Regions from separate parts of the Homo sapiens genome. Here region 1 is linked to region 2. Evidence: fine-mapped expression QTL. Tissue or cell type: whole blood. Region 2 holds a variant in brackets; the other region holds the start of a gene. All regions are shown on one strand. Distances are from middle to middle.

What was found. PIP is the estimated chance that this variant, and not a neighbour inherited with it, causes the effect.
Region 1: it holds the start of KIFC3, and the variant in region 2 is fine-mapped to the expression of KIFC3 in whole blood (INTERVAL, PIP above 0.99).

The regions. Positions count from the first base shown.
Region 1 is chr16:57,798,803-57,806,944 of GRCh38, reverse strand. It overlaps KIFC3 (kinesin family member C3), which reads left to right and starts at 4,454. Exons shown (of 20, transcript NM_001130100.2): 1 at 4,454-4,575. RefSeq lists enhancers at 3,481-4,157, 4,835-5,511.
Region 2 is chr16:57,730,334-57,738,488 of GRCh38, reverse strand. DRC7 (dynein regulatory complex subunit 7) reads right to left here. Exons shown (of 19, transcript NM_001289162.2): 18 at 7,419-7,558; 19 at 6,684-7,324. The coding sequence ends at 7,231. KATNB1 (katanin regulatory subunit B1) reads right to left here and starts at 2,719. Exons shown (of 20, transcript NM_005886.3): 1 at 2,634-2,719; 2 at 1,206-1,511. The coding sequence starts at 1,245. LOC107984852 (a long non-coding RNA gene) reads left to right here and starts at 1,845. Exons shown (of 2, transcript XR_001752221.3): 1 at 1,845-2,053; 2 at 2,882-4,660. RefSeq lists enhancers at 1,524-1,593, 2,962-3,131, 2,878-3,172, 3,152-3,261, 3,891-4,868 and a silencer at 2,412-2,651. The variant C/T (reference allele first, on the strand shown) is at 4,360.

The sequences.
Region 1 (8,142 bases), 68 kb before region 2:
GTCCAGCCTCCTCCGTAGTTCTTTCTGCGGTGCTCATGATGAATGATTTCAGAGGGATTGGAAGATTGGAAGATGTGGATTCAAAAAAGCAGCTAATTGGGTCAGGATTACTTAATATGCGGCTCACTCCAGAATGAGTTTCTCCAACTTCAATAAATGTTCTGTTACCCAGAAGCATGAGAGGACACACTTTTCACAGCTGCAGGGCACTCCTTCCTGACCACATGGAAATAATTGCTAAGGAGCCTTCTCTTACTTCCTTTTGGTAGAAATTATCATTACTTTACATGGGAAGAAAGTCTGTTTGGGTACATTTCACGCACCTGTTCTTCCCTTCTGAATTCTATGGGATCTATGGATTTATTCAATGAACATGTCTGTGATACCAGGCCCTGAGCTGGGGTCAGCTGAGGATTTCCCTGTGATCAAGTAACGAAAGGGTCCTGTCCTGAAGGAGCAGATGGTATACACAGGAACGCCATCATGATCCAGGGTCGGGGATGCTGCAGGGGGTGAGTTGAGCCCGCCTGCTGGTGCCTGGGAGGGTCAAAGAAGGTGACCTCTAAACTTGAAGGAGGGACAAGCAGGTATGGAATTGGCCAGGTAAGGGTTAGTGGAGGCAGATGAGAATGGGGTGAAGGAGAGGGGCTTTCCAGGCAGGGAGGACAACATTTGCAAAGGCTCGGAGAAGACTTGATCTGAGGTTAAATCATTTAAAATGGGAAAATCATGTAAATCTTATCTGTGCTTTACTCTGGGTTGCTATGAGAATCAGATTAAACACAATCTGACTTTTCATTCCCCTTCTTTCCTTCCCTTTGGGGAGCAGAACTCTCAGGCTCTTGGCCACTTCTCTGACGAATGCCTGAGCAGTAAAGGGTTTCAGGCCCTCTGAACACAAAGATGGGTCAGGTGTGGTGGCTCATGCTTGTAATCCCAGCACTTTGGGAGGTTGAGGCGGGCAGATCACCTCAGGTCAGGAGTTCGCAAGCAGCCTGGCCAACGTGGCAAAACCCCGTCTCTACTAAAAATACAAAAATTAGGAGTTTGAAAGCAGCCTGGCCAACATGGCAAAACACCGTCTCTACTAAAAATACAAAAATTAGCTGGGCGTGGTGGCGCATGCCTGTAATCCCAGCCACTTGGGAGGCTGAGGCAGGAGAATTGCTTGAACCCAGGAGGCAGAGATTTCAGTGAGCCGAGATTGCGCCACTGCACTCCAGCCTGGGCAACAGAGTGAGACTCTGTCTCAAAAAAAAAAAAAAAAAAAAGTCTATGGGCATACCACCGTGAACACACCTGATCTTGTCTGAACACAAAGATGGCGCTGCTAGTCCCTGCCTGGGGATGGGGTGGATGTGGGCGTGGAATTGCAGTGTTCTGGACACTGTCTTCTGTCTGGCCCTCCCTGAGACAGCTGTGCCTCTGCCAGAGTTCGGCAGGAAGGGTCAAGGCTAAGGCTGAACCCAAGAGTCCTCCCTCAAGGGTTTAGGACTTCAGTGTTGGAATGGCCAGGTTTCAGCAAAACTTGCACCTTTCCCGGGGCCAGGAGAGTTGGCAGCCTCCTATGCAAATCATCAGCGAAGTTTCTGGGTTAGAAATGACCTTGGAGTTGGTACGTAGTTCCTGATGACATTGTACATTCTTAAATTCCAACAACTGGGATGGGCATGGTATGGTGGCTCATGCAAATAATCCCAGCACTTTGGGAGGCTGAAGCAGGATGATCGCTTGAGGCTAAGATTCTGAGACCAACCAGGGCGACAGAGCTAGACCCCGACTCCACACAATATTCTTTTTAAAAAACTGAGTCATGCTGGGCACGGTGGCTCATGCCTGCAATCCCAACATTTTGGGAGGCCGAGGCAGGGGGATCACTTGAGGTCAGGAGTTCGAAACCAGCCTGTCCAACATGGTGAAACCCTGTCTCTACCAAAAATATAAAAAATTAGCTGGGTGTGGTGGTGTGCGCCTGTAATCCCACTGCACTCCAGCTTGGGTGACAGAGCGAGCCCCCGTCTCAAAAAAAAAAAAAAAAATTGAGTCAGGCACAGTGATTCACATCTTCACATCTGTAATCCCAGGACTTTGGAAAGCCAAGGTAGAAGGATCCCTTGAGCCCAGGAGTTTGAGACCAGCCTGGGCAACATAGTGAGACACCCCCATCTCTACTTAAAAAAAAAAAAAATTAGCTAGGCACACTGGTGTGTGCCTGTAGTCCCAGCTACTCAGGAGGCTCAGGTGGGAGGATCACTTGATCCCAGGAGTTCGGGGCTATAGTGAGCTATGATTGCATCACTGCACTCCAGCCTGGGCAACAGATCAAGATCTTGTCTCAAAAATGCAACAACCATGAAACAAGTAGTTTTTACGTTTCAAATCGGAGTTTTGCTAGAATTCCAAAAATACAACCTCCTTACACTTCAATTTCCTTTTTCCTTCGCTGGTGCTTTGATCTTAATAAGTTGTTATACCCATATGCATCTGATAGTACTGTGTGAGTACCTATTGGAGTCATAGCTCTATCACACACTGCATTTGTGAACAAACTTTCTGAGGCTCAGTTTCCTTTCCTGAAACACGGGTGTCCTGAAACAGTACTGGTGTTCATAGGGTGTTCAGGGTTAAATGGGATTTTGTTTATAAAGAGCTTAGTGCTGTGCCTGACACAGTGTTAGCTTCAATAATGGCATCTATTATGTACACAGGAAAAAAAAAGACTTCTAAAGTGTTGGCAGCATTTATCTCCAGTGTGTGGGATATGGTTACAATGAACATCTATTACTTTTGTAATCAAAGCAAAAGAACAATAAATGTTATTATTAATTTAAAAATCTGGCTTTGGCTTTGGTGGGAAGGACCTACAGTTAATGTCAATGTACTCAATCCCTGAGTAAGAAAAAGTCTCCAGTTTTGAACCAGGACTTTAAAGACATTCTGTCCTCCCCATCCCCCGCCCCATCAACTCATAGGGACTATAATCAAGGGAGATAGATACTAAATCAGAATTCTAGAGACATTTTGCCTTCATCCACCCTTGCGGTCCCCTGGATCACTGCTGTTTGGAGGGCAGGCAGAGGAATTCAGAGATCATAACTCCCCAAATAAGGCTTTCTCTCCCATTGGAAGGGTTCTCCAGTGTGGTGTTCAGCTGGAAATCTAACTCTCTAGGGAATGATTCCAGGAGCGTTACATTCACCCTCTATCAGGCCTTCACTGAGGAATCTCAGTTGTCAAATAAAGCATGCACTAGGCTGCTTCCAGCTGGGGGACTGTGACTGTCCTGCTCTGGCGTCCAGAACAATCTGAGGCCCAGGCCCTTGGCTCCGTCGCTGGTCGAGATTCTTGACTGGCAGCCCAGCGCCTGGGCGGCAGCAGGAGATAGAACCCACCTGGAGTTGCCCGACCCCCTCCAGTCCTCTCCTTGATCTTCTTGGGCCATCCCCTGACAAGCAGGAAGGGACAGAGTACCCGCCCTCCTGGGATTATCTGCAGAACCGTCAGCCTGCATGGGCTGGCTTCAGAGTGACTTGCTTTCTCCTCTTCCGCACCCGGGGGTGTGGAGAGTGAGGGAGAATATTGCTGCTGGCTCTGGAATAAAATGCTGCCTCTGTTTGGGAGACAAAGAACAGAGTGGCTCCTCCAGGTCAGCTGTCTCTCCCGGCTGGCAGGCCCCTGGCCTCCCCCAGGCCTCTTCTGAGGCTCTAGGTGCCCCAGTAGCAGGGCCTTCTGCAGCAAGGCCGGGAACTGCTGCACCATTGGTGTGTTTTACCTTAAGGGACTCCAGGCAGCTTCCTTGCTGGGAAGATATTCATTTGCTGGGGTGGGGCTGGGGGTGCAGAGGTAGGAAGTGCTGTGGCTAGAAGGCGGCCTGGCCAGCGAGTAGGTGGTGGAGCGAGTGAGAGCGTGTGCGCTGTAAACAGTGTGAGTGCATGTGCGCCAGCGCGTGCAAGGACACGGTAAGGGATGTACATGTATTGTCTCGTGAGTAAGAGCTTGTGTGTGTGTTGGGATGGGAAGACACGTACTGGTATGAGAGCCCGCGTGAGAAGTGTATGTGTGAGTACTCGCGTGGAAGTTTTGCACTCGGGTTTGAGGCTGTGCAAAAGTACGCATGGCTCACCAGGTGTGGGGCTGTGTGGGCTGCCTCGTGTGTGCCAGCCCGTGTGCAGGCCTGTTTTGTGAGAGCCTTCAGGGAACGCATGAGCACGTGTGCCAGTGCGAGTGCGGGACGCGGGGAGGCGGGAGAGACCGAGTGGGAGGCCCCGCGAAGGAGTGGGAGTGGGAGTGGGAGTGCCGGCGGGAGACCTGCGGGGGCGCGCCCGGGCTGACGCGTGCGCGCCAGTGCGCGTGAGTGCGGGCGCGCGCCGCCGCCCCCCGCCGGGGTCGGAGCCGGTTGCCATGGGAACGCGCCGCGGCCCGAGTTAATCATTTCCTGTGGAAAGTGTGCGGGAGGGGCGCGAGCGGGCTGGCCGAGGAGGAGGCGGCGGCGTGGAGCTGCCTCCTGCCGGCGGGCCGGGCCGGGCCGAGCCCCGGGCGCTGCGGCGACGCCTGGATCCTGCCTCCGCCAGGCCGGTGAGTGGGGGGCCCGGGCGGGCTGGGTGCGAGCGGGGCGCTGGGCTCTGCCCGGCCCGCCGTTTGGGGCGCCGCGTCCGGGCCGGCCCTGCCCTCGGGACCCCTCTGCCCGGACCCGCTATGGGCGCGGGGAGGGAAAGGCCCGGGAGACCCAGCCCTGCGAGGTCCCCTCCAGCGCCGTTCAGCCCGAGTCGAGGACCTTGCTGGGAGCTGGGCACAGGGGCGGCGTGTCCCACGGGATCCGAGCAGCCTCGGGACCCCGTTTGGATTTTATTGAACGAGAAGAGCGCAGACCCTACCCGGGATGGGCTTGTCAATCGGCGCCGCCCTCTCCCCTTCCTGGCGTCTTCCCCACCCCCAGGGCTCCCTGGAAGGCTGCCTTTGGGTCCCTCCCACCACGTCCCTTGGGGAGTTCGCTTTTTCCCTGGCAGGGCCTGGGGCGGGGTGCGCCCGCCCAGAGGTTAGGAAGAAGGGCCTTGGCCGGTGCCCTCCGGGCAGTGAGGAATCGGGCCATTGACAGCCGCAGCAGTTGTGAGGGTCTCAGCAGGGAGGGCGATCCCAGGACCACCCCTTTAAGCCCAGCATTGCTAGTTAGAGCAGAACTCTGGCTGGTGCAGTGAAGGGCCTGGTCCTGGGAGATATTAAAGAGGAAGCTGTGTTTAATTAAATTCTGGAGTACCATTTACTGCCACCCAGCCCCCACCTCCATACCCCAACACTGTCTCAAGATTGCGGGTTGTGGCCACCCCTGGTCTTTCACCTTCCCCGGCTTTTCCTCTGCCTGAACAGGGTGAGCACCCATTCTTTCCCAGACGTGTATTCCCCATGCCCTTGTTAGAGTAGCCGTCTCCTTGACCAGGGAGAGTCATTTGCTAGGAATGCAGTCTCAGAATGGGGCCCTGCATTTGCAGTGAGTGGACTTTAGGGGCACAGGGTGGTGAGTTCTGCTGTTCACAGGGGCACCAGGGAGCAGAGGGTTTGAAATCTAGGTTGCCCTGGAAAGCCCAGGATAGATGATGGTGTGCAGGGAGGTGGCATTCCCTGTACAACTTCCTTGACCTTCTGCCTGCTCTCCCAGGGCGACCAAGCCCTGCTTGCTGCAGTCTCTGAGCAGCTGTCCAGCCTGTCCCCCCAGTCTTTGCAATGTCCCTGATCTAGGGCAGGGGGAGTATTGCAGCTCTGCTGTCCTGGTCTAAACCCAGAGAGGCAGAGACCCTCTTCCCCAGCCAGGCCCTCTGCATTCACCCACCACTGGAGCAAAGTAACTGAAAAATAAAATTTTGGAGCTCTTTGTATATGCCAGTATTGTTCTGAACACTTGGCCTTGTCTAATCTTTAGAGCAACCCTATAAGGTGGTGTTCTCCCCATTTTATAGATGGAGATAATGAAGTACGGAGAGGCAAAGTAATTCTCCCAAGGTCAGACATCTAGTAAACAGGGGAGCCAGGTTCTGAACCAGTCCCACTGCCCTCCCCCACGAATCCTAGGTTGGTAGAAGTCCCCGGACACCAGGTTTCATCTCAGATGCCCATGTAAATGAGAGAGAGTCCTGCTTTCTTGGCCCAGAACCCTGGGCTTAAGATTCCTTGATACTTTTGACCTTCACACCCCTGAGGCTGCTAAATTCAGCTGCTTTTTCCTCTTCGGGATCTAGCACACGCCCTTCCTCTTTCTTCCCGATATCTTCCTGGCTGCCTCCTCCACTTCCCTTCCTGATAACCGCAGAAACGCTATCTCCTCCTGTCCCTGCCCCTCAGACTGAGCTGAGCTGATCTCCCTGAAAGTCTTCTCTGTCCACTGTGGAGTCAGCCTCCAATGCCCTGCACTGTCTCACCTTCCCAGCAGCCGAGACTGCAGATGGACCTGCCTTGCTCCTTCCCTTGCCCATTGGACAGCTGGTCTGCAGGGTTGGTTGTGTGCCCAGCTCTGTGCCAGGCAGCCTGGAGAAGAGGACATTTGGCTGCTCCCCTTGGTTTCTTCCACGCCACACTGGTCCATCTCAGTTTCCTCAGTGGAGCTGGCCCACGTATTTAGATCAGCCTCTGCCCTGTCCTTTGGCCCACATTCCCATCCCCTTCCCAGTAAGACTGAACCTAGGAGCCTCCTAGTTGTTCTAAGTCAAGGAAGGAAGAGACCATGGCTTCCTCGCCAGGTGCCTGGCATTCTTCCAGGGTTGGGCTCTGCAAACATCAGACACCAGATCTTCAGGCCCCTAACCCCTGGACCCTTTACTTTATTATTTATTTATTTATTTATTTTTGCCTCTCAATGCTTTAGTCACTCCTGTCTCTCTGTCTCCCCAATATGCTCAACTCTCCCCCTATTCTAGACACCACATCCTCTCCTTCCCATCCTAGCCAAACACCCCCAAGGAGAAGGAAGTGGCTGCTTCCTCCCCCAGCTCCCGCCCCACTCTTTGAGCCCTCCGAAGTTTGCCATCTGCCCTTCTCCCTCCACAGGCTCAGGCTTTCTGCCTGTCTGGGCTTTCAGTCCTCCACGTCTCTTTGGCATGATGCACTGGGCACTGACCAACCTCTCCTTCCCACTTACACTTCAGTCACTTCTGAAAACTCTATACTTGCCTGGAGCTCCTGTCCCTCTCTCAGCTTCCTTCTGCAGCTTTCCACCCCGCAGTGAGCCCTGTTATCACATGGCTGTCTCCTCTTGCTCAAGCTTTGATGATTGCCTCCTCACCTGTGGCGTTGGTGGCCCTGTTTAGCTCTGAGTCTGTGTCCAGCCCTGACCTCTCTTCCAGGCTTCAGTTCAAGCTTTTGTGTGTGTTCATTTCAGAACGTTCACCCCACAAGCCATCCCAGAGTTCTTAGTGTGGGTGCAGCTGCAGACTGGGTGCAGTGGGGCTGCAAACATGAATGTGTGTGGGCCCATAGTGGGTCAGGGGAGGTGGACACCCTTCAAATAGCTATCTTCACTTCCTGGCAGGAAGTGGCCACTGCAGTGACGGATGGGGAGAGTAGTCGACAGCCCAGGAAGCTCCACTAGGAAGTCCTTCAGTTACCCCCACCTCAATCTTAAAACCCCATGTTGCCTCTCCAAGCTGACTTCGCTTCTTCTGTAAATGACATTACTGTCTGAGTCTGGGACTGTAGCATGATCACCTTAAATGTCCTCAAGGTTGCTTTGCACACAGTAGGTGCTCAATAAAGACTTCTGCAGGGAATACCTGAGCTCTGTTCATTTGTTCAGTTCATGAGGGACCTATCCCTGACTGAAGCTTTCTATCCCTGACCAATGCTCTCTGCCCCCCTCCATTCCCCACACCACCTGGTGCCTGGCTCGCACCTGCCGCCTCCAGTAGCCTGCTCAGACTGTGAGGGTTTTTTTGAAGTGTTTATCTCCCTTCTGACTGGGAGTTTTCAGGCCTCATCTCTTCTGATCCAAAAGGACCCCTGGCAGATGCCTGGCACCCAGTAGGCATTATTAAATGAAGACTGAATGAATCTTTGTATCTCAACACCCATACGGTGCCTGCCACATGCTAGGCACAGAGCGCAGGCTAGTCGAATACATGAATGAGAACTTACTGTATATAGACTTCACTTGTCATT
Region 2 (8,155 bases):
AGGTCAGGGGTTCGAGACGAGTCTGGCCAACATGGTGAAACCCCGTCTCTACTAAAAATACAAAAATTAGCCGGGTGTGGTGGCGGGTGCCTGTGATCCCAGCTACTCGGGAGGCTGAGGCACGAGAATCGCATGAACCCGGGAAGCAGAGGTTGCAGTGAGCTGAGATTGCACCACTGTACTCCAGCCTGGGTGACAGTGAGACTCTGTCTCAAAAAAAAAAAAAAGTGTGGAGTCTTGTCCCAGCTCCTGAAAACCAGCCCAGGGACAGCTGGCAGCAGACAGTGACCAGGTGGAGCACACAAAAGCTATGCCAACCAGTTACAATAGGTGGGGCAGGGCCCACCAAGGTGCCAATGTGTAGGGGAATTCTCAAAATATGATCTGGGGATGCTTGGGATCCTCAAGATCCTTTCGGGGGGTCTGAGAAGACAAAAGGATTTTCACAATAACACTAAGATGGCATCTGCCTTTTGCACTCTCATTTGCTCTCAAGCATATGGTGGAGTTTCCCAGAACATCACTAGAGGCCTATTTGATTATATACTCTTGTTTGAAAATGTCTCAGTATTAACTTCTAACGTGGTAAATACTGACAGATATATAACTCCAACAAACAAAAGCACTCTGGGGTCCTCAATAATTCTTAAAGTATGAAGTCTTCAGATGAAAGAGTCCAGATCCACTTGTATAGGGCAATGGTGGGAGTGGACAGTGCCCATCAGTTACAATCCGAGCCCTGTCTGCATCCCTCTGCCCGCCCCTCCTCGCTCCCACTCCTTCCCCCATCCCAGGCCCAAGATGCTTTTATCTGACTGGGGAAGTTTGACTTGTGAGATGTCTGAGAATGCTGTGAACATCTTTCAGGATTTCTCACCCCACTGTCAGCCTAACTGGAAATGCTGTGCTAAGTGCTTTAGGATGGGTTCATCCTGTCACTTGAATTTCACAGCAACCATAGAATGCAGGCGTCATCTCATTGTACATATAAGAAAACTGAGCCTCAGAGAGGTTAAGTCACCTGCCCAGTGTCACCCAGCTAAGAAGTGCCACAGTCATGATTTACATAATGGTCTATCTTACTCCCAAGTCTAGGAGTCTCCTCCTGTGCCAAGAACAGGAAACAAAGCTGTGGGTTCAGGCCTCCCAGCAACAAGCCGCTAACAGAATAAATGGGGTGATAAAGAAAAATGAAAACCACTCACGCAACTTCCAGGCTGTCTTGGTGACCACAGGGGTGGCCATCCTTCAGCTGGCTGGCACCTGAAGCCCCACCCACAAAATAAACTGTGCTTTCCTCGTGGGGTGGGGGTGGATCCCCCCCCAGATCCACCAATCAAGTTGGCAGAGAGTTCCCACACATCCAGGCAGACAGAATGCCTCGTCTTCTGGCCCTGGGGTGCCTCGTGGTTCCAAATTACCCACAGCAGCAACAGCAGCAGCCTGTGCACATCTGTCACGATCCTGGATCATGGAATGTTAGGCTCGAGCCATCTCAGCTCAATACAGGGCTGCAATACAAACAAGAGGTGACGTCATGTTAGAAAATGCTTGGTAAGAGCTGTTGCTCCCTGGATCACCAAGACCACTTGATAAAGACTGACACCCACCAAAGCCACCAGAGTCAGAAGCTGCACTGCAAATTAGGTTTGGGAATCTGCAGAGGGGGCACCTCAGGTAGGGTGATTTGGAACGTAAGGAAAAAGAAACTCCTCCCAGAGGCCAGGATAATGAGCTGCAGCTCTGTTCCGGGATGCTGGCTGCCTAAAGTGCAGCAGCCGCAGTGGGGCGGAGAAGACCACGTGTCTGCAATTCACATAGATTTCCTGCGAGTCGTTGTTTTTGTCTGACGTGTGGGATGTGGGAGAGCGGAGTCAGAAGCTAAGCTTAGGGGCCTAGGAAAGGCATCCCAGAGACGGCCACTGAAGTCCTCCTTGGAAAGAATCTCGAAGACGACCCTGATGGTCCAATTCCCCAGCTCCTGGCAAGGGAACCGCTCCTGCTCCCTGCGATTCCCAAGGACAGAGCTAGGAACTAGGCCTCCAGTCTGGGCGTAAGTGGCTATGACTCTTCAACTCTAAAAGGCCTCCTCATGGAGCCTCCCACCTCCTTCCCACAGCCACTTCACCTCTTTCCCATGAGCCCGCTCCCCTCCGTCCCCTTTCTCCTGGGTCCCCGGGTCTGCCTCTCTAGTCCTCCGTTCACACCCCCTTTTCTCCCTGCCCCCTGAGTCTCCCACTTATGCACATCCTGTCTCCCGATATCCCTCACGTGGCCCCTGCCTCGCCAGACTCCCGTTACTGCCCTTTCCCATATGCTCGCGGGGTCTCCCATTCATTCATTCTCCTACTTCTCTTCTCCCTATTCATTACCTGTCCTTCTGCAGACCCCCAGCTCTGCTTCCGGCCTCCCTGGTTTTGCCCCCTCCGGCCTCCACCCCGACCCCTCTCGTCCGGGGGCGGGGGCAGGTCCCTCGGCCACGGCTGATCCTCCCAACCCTCTGCTTGCGGAGTACGGGCTCTAGCCTCCCCACGCTCAGAGCTCTCTGCCCGCAAGCCCAGCCAGCCCCGCCTGGCTCGGCCCAGCCCAGGGCCCACCGTCCCCTCGCCACCTCGTCCCCTTGCCCACTCCACCTGCAGCTGCGGCTCCGGAGGCCGAGGCTCCGCTCCAGGCGCGACCCCCACTTGCCTCCATCCCCTGCCTTGATTGGCCGCTGCTTGACAACCGACCCTCACAACAAAACCTCCGGCTCAGAGCCCCGCCCACCTTGCCTCCCGCACCAATCAGCTGCCGCGGGTGCTCCGCCTCCTGCCAGGACTGACCAATGGAAGCAGGCGCTTCTGCCGCTTTTCCTCAGTACCCGCCCTCTTTTCCTAAATAGGACTAATCAAGAGGAAGGAACGTTCAAGAGCCGCCCCTTGGCCTCTAATAAACCAATGCAAGCTGCCGTTTCCTTAGTCCCGCCTCCGTCTCAAGTTTTCCCTTTCCTCTCCGTTTCCTCCCTCGAACCTAATTTGTGTCTGAAAACTTTTGAGAGCCGCCCTCCAATGGCGGCTGCGCCAATGGCTTGAGCAACCGTCCTGGATTGACCAATCAGCGTCCGCATTATTGGAAAACTCAATTCCCAGATAGCCAATGGGAAAGGAACTTCGGGGGCAGTGTGAAGCCTCAGGCCTTCCATCTTGGAGTGGGGCAAAACCTAAGGAGGCCTTAGTCGGCATTTTGCCGAAGCTCCTCATTCTTCACTTTGCCTGCAGATGGTCCCCCGTGGCAGGAGGACTTTGTCCCTGTTCTTTGACCCGGACGCCGGCTTGAATCCCCCATGGGAGGTCTAGAAGGAAACAGCCTGATTCCGGAGCCGAGGCAGGCGCTGAACCCTGTAGCACTGCACACGCAGCCACCGCCTCGACTAATGGATGCGTGGGCAAGGGGCTGCTCCCTGAATGGCTGCAATCAGGGAATCGGAGAAAGGCCAGCTTTATTTGTGACACGTTGGGCGGGGTGGGCTCTGGGAAGCGCCGTAACCCTTCTCGACTCAGGGCCTCTCGCGTGGCCGCTTAGGAGGGACTTGGCCCCGCAGCCGCCTCTCCCTGTTGCCCAGAGGTTGTCCCAGGCACCCAGAGCCCCTCGAACCTTGCCCTTCGGCCTCCAGCCTCTCACCGCAGGTCAGGGCTCCTTGGGCTCACATAACGCCCAGTACAACCATAAGAGGTAGGAATTCCTGTTCCCATTTACAGATGAGGAAACTGAGGCCCGGGTTAAGATGCTTGCAGAAAACCACACGGTCAGAAAGTAATAGCCCCAGAATTCGAACCCTTGTTCTGAAAGCCAAAGCGTGGGGGAGTCCCCACTCTGCCTTCTGCTTCAGCCTTCTGCTTCAGATTCTCCTGCTTCAGCCTCCTGGGTAGCTGGAACCACAGGCGCCCGCCACCACGACGGGCTAAGGCTAGTTTTTATATTTTTAGTAGAGACGGGGTTTCTCCATTTTGGCCAGGCTGGTCTTGAACTCCTGACCTTAGGTGATCCACCCGCCCCAGCCTCCCGAAGTGCTGGGATTACAGGCGTGAGTCACCGCAAGACACCTTTAAAAGATTAGCAGAATAACATCGGATCAAAACTGTCTAGCCTGCAGTTCCCCTTAATTTTGTATTATAAAAAGAAAACTAAACAGAGAAAACTTTAAAAGACAATATAATGATACCACGTAGATTCCAGTACTTGTTAACAGTTTGCCATATTTGCTTCGTCTGTGTGTCTTTTCGGAACCATTTGAAAATTGTAGATATGACATTTCACCCCAACACCAAATACTGAGCATGTATCTCTTAAAAATAAGGCCCTTGGCCAGGCGCGGTGGCT[C/T]ACGCCTGCAATCCCAGCACTTTGGGAGGCCAAGGCGGGCGGATCACCTGAGGTCAGGAGTCCGAGACCAACCTGGCCAACATGGTGAAACCCCGTCTCTACAAAAAAATACAAAAATTAGCCGGGCGTGGTGGCGCACGTGCCTATAATCCTAGCTACTGGGGAGGCTGAGGCAGGAGAATCACTTGAAACTGGGAAGCAGAGGTTGCGGTGAGCTGGGATGGGGCCACTGTACTCCAGCCTGGGCGACAGAGTGAGATCCATTTCAAAAAATAAAAATAAAGCCCTTATTCTACAATAACCATTGTTATCACCACTGCTAAGAAAATTTAATTCTGTAACAACCAGTCCATATTCGTATGTCCCCAGTCATCCCAAAAACCTTTTAGGACTTTTTTTTTCTAACTAAGAACCAATCAGTATTCACCACACTTGACTCTTAAGTTCTTTCCATTTCTGTCCCCAAACTTTTATTTTTATGACATCGATCTTTTGAAGAGATCAGGCCATTTACCTAGATTGTCCCACGTTAGGAATGTTTCCTTTTAGTATCATTTACCTGAATTTCCTGAAGTTCTTGTTAGATGGACGTTCTTCTTAAATGCATTTCTTCCCTTGAATTTCTTAAGTTAGGGCTAAAGGCTTGATTAGATTCATGACAACAAGCAGTCAAAAACACTCCAGAGGACACATTGTAAGTGCACAAGGTTGATGAATTTTTACAAACCGAACACACCCAGGTCAAAAAGCAGAACGTGACTAGAAACCAGAACCTCCCCTCCCAGGGCTCCATGCTCACATCCATTCACTAACCCTCACACTCCAAGAGTGACGGTTGTCCTGACTTCTAATATCACCAATTAATTTTCCTTATTTTTGTTCTTTCCATAAATGGAATAATAGAGTATGTACTTTTGTGTCTTGAATCTTTTGACATTATACTTAGGCAGTTTGACCATATCATTCCATATAGTTGTGTTGCAGTTCATTCATTTTCATTGCTCTATGATATGGTTTGGCTGTATCCCCACCCAAATCTCATCTTGTGAATTGTAGCTCCCATAATTCCCACATATTGTGGGAGGGACCCAGTGGGAGATAACTGAATCATGGGAGGGGTTTCCCACATACTGTTCTCATGGTAGTGAATTAGTCTCACGAGAGCTGATGATTTTATAAGGGATTTTCCTTTTTGCTTGGTTCTCATTCTTTCTTGTCTGCCACCATGTAAGATGTGCCTTTGGCCTTCTGCCATGATTGTGGGGCCTCCCCAGCCGTGTGGAACTGTGAGTCCATTAAACCTCTTTTTCTTTACAAATTACCCAGTCTTGAGTATGTCTTAATCAGCAGTGTGAAAACAGACTAATATACTCTATAACCTCAACATTATTGGCATTTAGACCTAGATAATTATTTGCTGTGGGGGGCTGTTCTGGGCATTGTAGAATGTTTAGCAGCATCCCTGGCCTGTATGCACTAGATGCCAGTAGCATTCTCCCTAAGCAGTTCTCCCTAAGCAGTTAAAGACAACCCAAAATATCTGAAGACCACAATTTATGTATCCATTCTGCTCTTGATGGGCATTTGGGTAACTTCCAAGTATGGTGCTATTATCAATAATGCTGCTATGAAAGTTCTAGCACATGCCTTTTAGCAGATAACTATCTATCTACATTTCGGTTGAGTTGTTCATCATTCTTACTTGATGAATGATGGATTGGAGTAGAACCTAAGAGTAGAATTGTTGGGCTTTAGTTTAGCTTTAATAGATAATGCCAAGCAGTTTTCCAAAATGGTTGTACTGATTTATACTTTCACTAGGAAGGCTATTTGGGAGTTCCAGTTGTTTCTCATCGTCACCAGTACTTTTTATTTTTTTCATACCGGAGGGTGTTGTGACATTTCATTTGCCAGATGACTCATGAATTTGACAACCATTTCATGTGTTTTTTGGCTATTTTGTAAGCTAACATTTAATGACTGCTTTCTATGTGCCATTCCCAGCCTCCCTGCTTTATAATTTATGTCTTTTTTTTCTTTTTTTTGAGACAGGGTTTTGCTCTGTTGCTTAGGCTGAAGTGCAGTGGTGCAATCATGGCTCACTGCAGCCTTGACTTCCTAGGTGAAAGTGATCCTCCTACCTCAGCCTCCTGAGTAGCTGGGACTACAGGCTCATGCCACCATGCCTGGCTCTTTGTTTTTTTTTTTTTTTAGAGATGGGGTCTTATTATGTTGCCCAGGCTGGTCTCAAACTCCTGGGATCAAGTGATCCTCCTGCCTCAGCCTCCCTAAATGTTGGGATTACAGGTGTGAGCCACCACACCTGGCCATAAGTCTTATTTAATGCAACAATGCTACCCCATTCCACAGATGGGTAAGTGGTATCTGGTAAGAGGAGGAGCTGGGATTCAGTCCTCAAATTCTGGGGCATGCATCTTAGCCTTCCCCATCCCACTTGGTGAGGTGGGCCACCCTAGTCACATTGAGATATAACCAGTTGTTTGCAGATGGCTGTGGGACCATCTGCAGAGGTGCTGTGAAGACCTGACATTCCAACGGAGAGAAGGACAGGAAGCAAACGACAGGCCAAGGGGAGGAAGGGGGTGGTCCCAGGCTATAGATAACAGAAGAAGAGAAAGGCTGCTGCTGGAGCTTGTGAAGCGCAAGGCACAAATGGCAAATTAAGAGTGTGTTTATTTACAGGAAAATCATGAGAAGCAGGAACAAACAGGGCTGTAGGGGAGGTGGGCTGGCAGTGAGGCCAGGTGTCTGTGTAAACAGGCATTGGCTGGATAGAGGGAACACAGGAGCCAGGCTGCGGGAAGAGGTTTCCTTTCTCTGGCAGCTCTGGCTGAGGCCCCAGGAGGGACATCAAGCGAATATTTTCTGGAGCTCCCCCAGGCGTGGGTCCTTGTAGAGCTTTTCCTCCAGAGCCAGGTACTTCAGTGGGGCCAGTTCCTTGTGTCTGAAGTCAGAGAGGCAAGGAAAGAGGGTGAGGGGTTACAAAGCTGGTGGTCCAGCCTCCCAGTGGGTTCTCTCCACCTGCCCTGCCTGCTCACCGATTGAGGCGCTGCTCCAGGATGCGGATGCGGAACATGGCCTGAGAGCAGTAACTCAGGTACAGGTCTTCATCCTCGGGTGTCAGCGTCACCTGGTTCTCCTGGTACCACTGCTGCTTCTTTTGCAGCTCCTGGGTCTCCTGTGGTCATAGGGCAGACAGAGAAGGAGGACTGACAAGGCTGACCTTCACCCAGGCTGCAGGCTGCAATCCCATGGGTCACTAGACAGCACCATGACGGTTGGCCCCAGTGTCCCCACTCACACAAGCCACCTATCCATACCTGCCACAGAGGCAGGGGCCACAAAATATCTTGGGTGGGAGCCAGTGGGGTCATGTTTATAGGGATGTCATGTCCATGAGATCAGAACGGGGCAAGACTGAGAGAGCCATGTAGCTCTGGACAAGTTACTGGCATTTTCAGAACCTGCAATTTCTTGTCTACAAAAGGAGGGTCATTGTACTCCCCCCTCCCCTTGTAGAGCTCCTTGTGAAGATTAAGTGACATAATCTTAGTAGTGCACGGGAACTACATGGTGTGTGCCTGACCAACAAAAATGGGTCAAGGACTAGGAGTTGTTACAGTGTACCATCTCTCTGTCTACCCAGCCATCTGCCCATCTATTCCTCTGCCCATCCCTCCACCCATCCCTGCCCATCCATCCGTCCATCCGTCCTTCCACTCATCCATCCAACCGTCCATCTATCCACTCGCCCATCCAACCGTCCATCTATCCA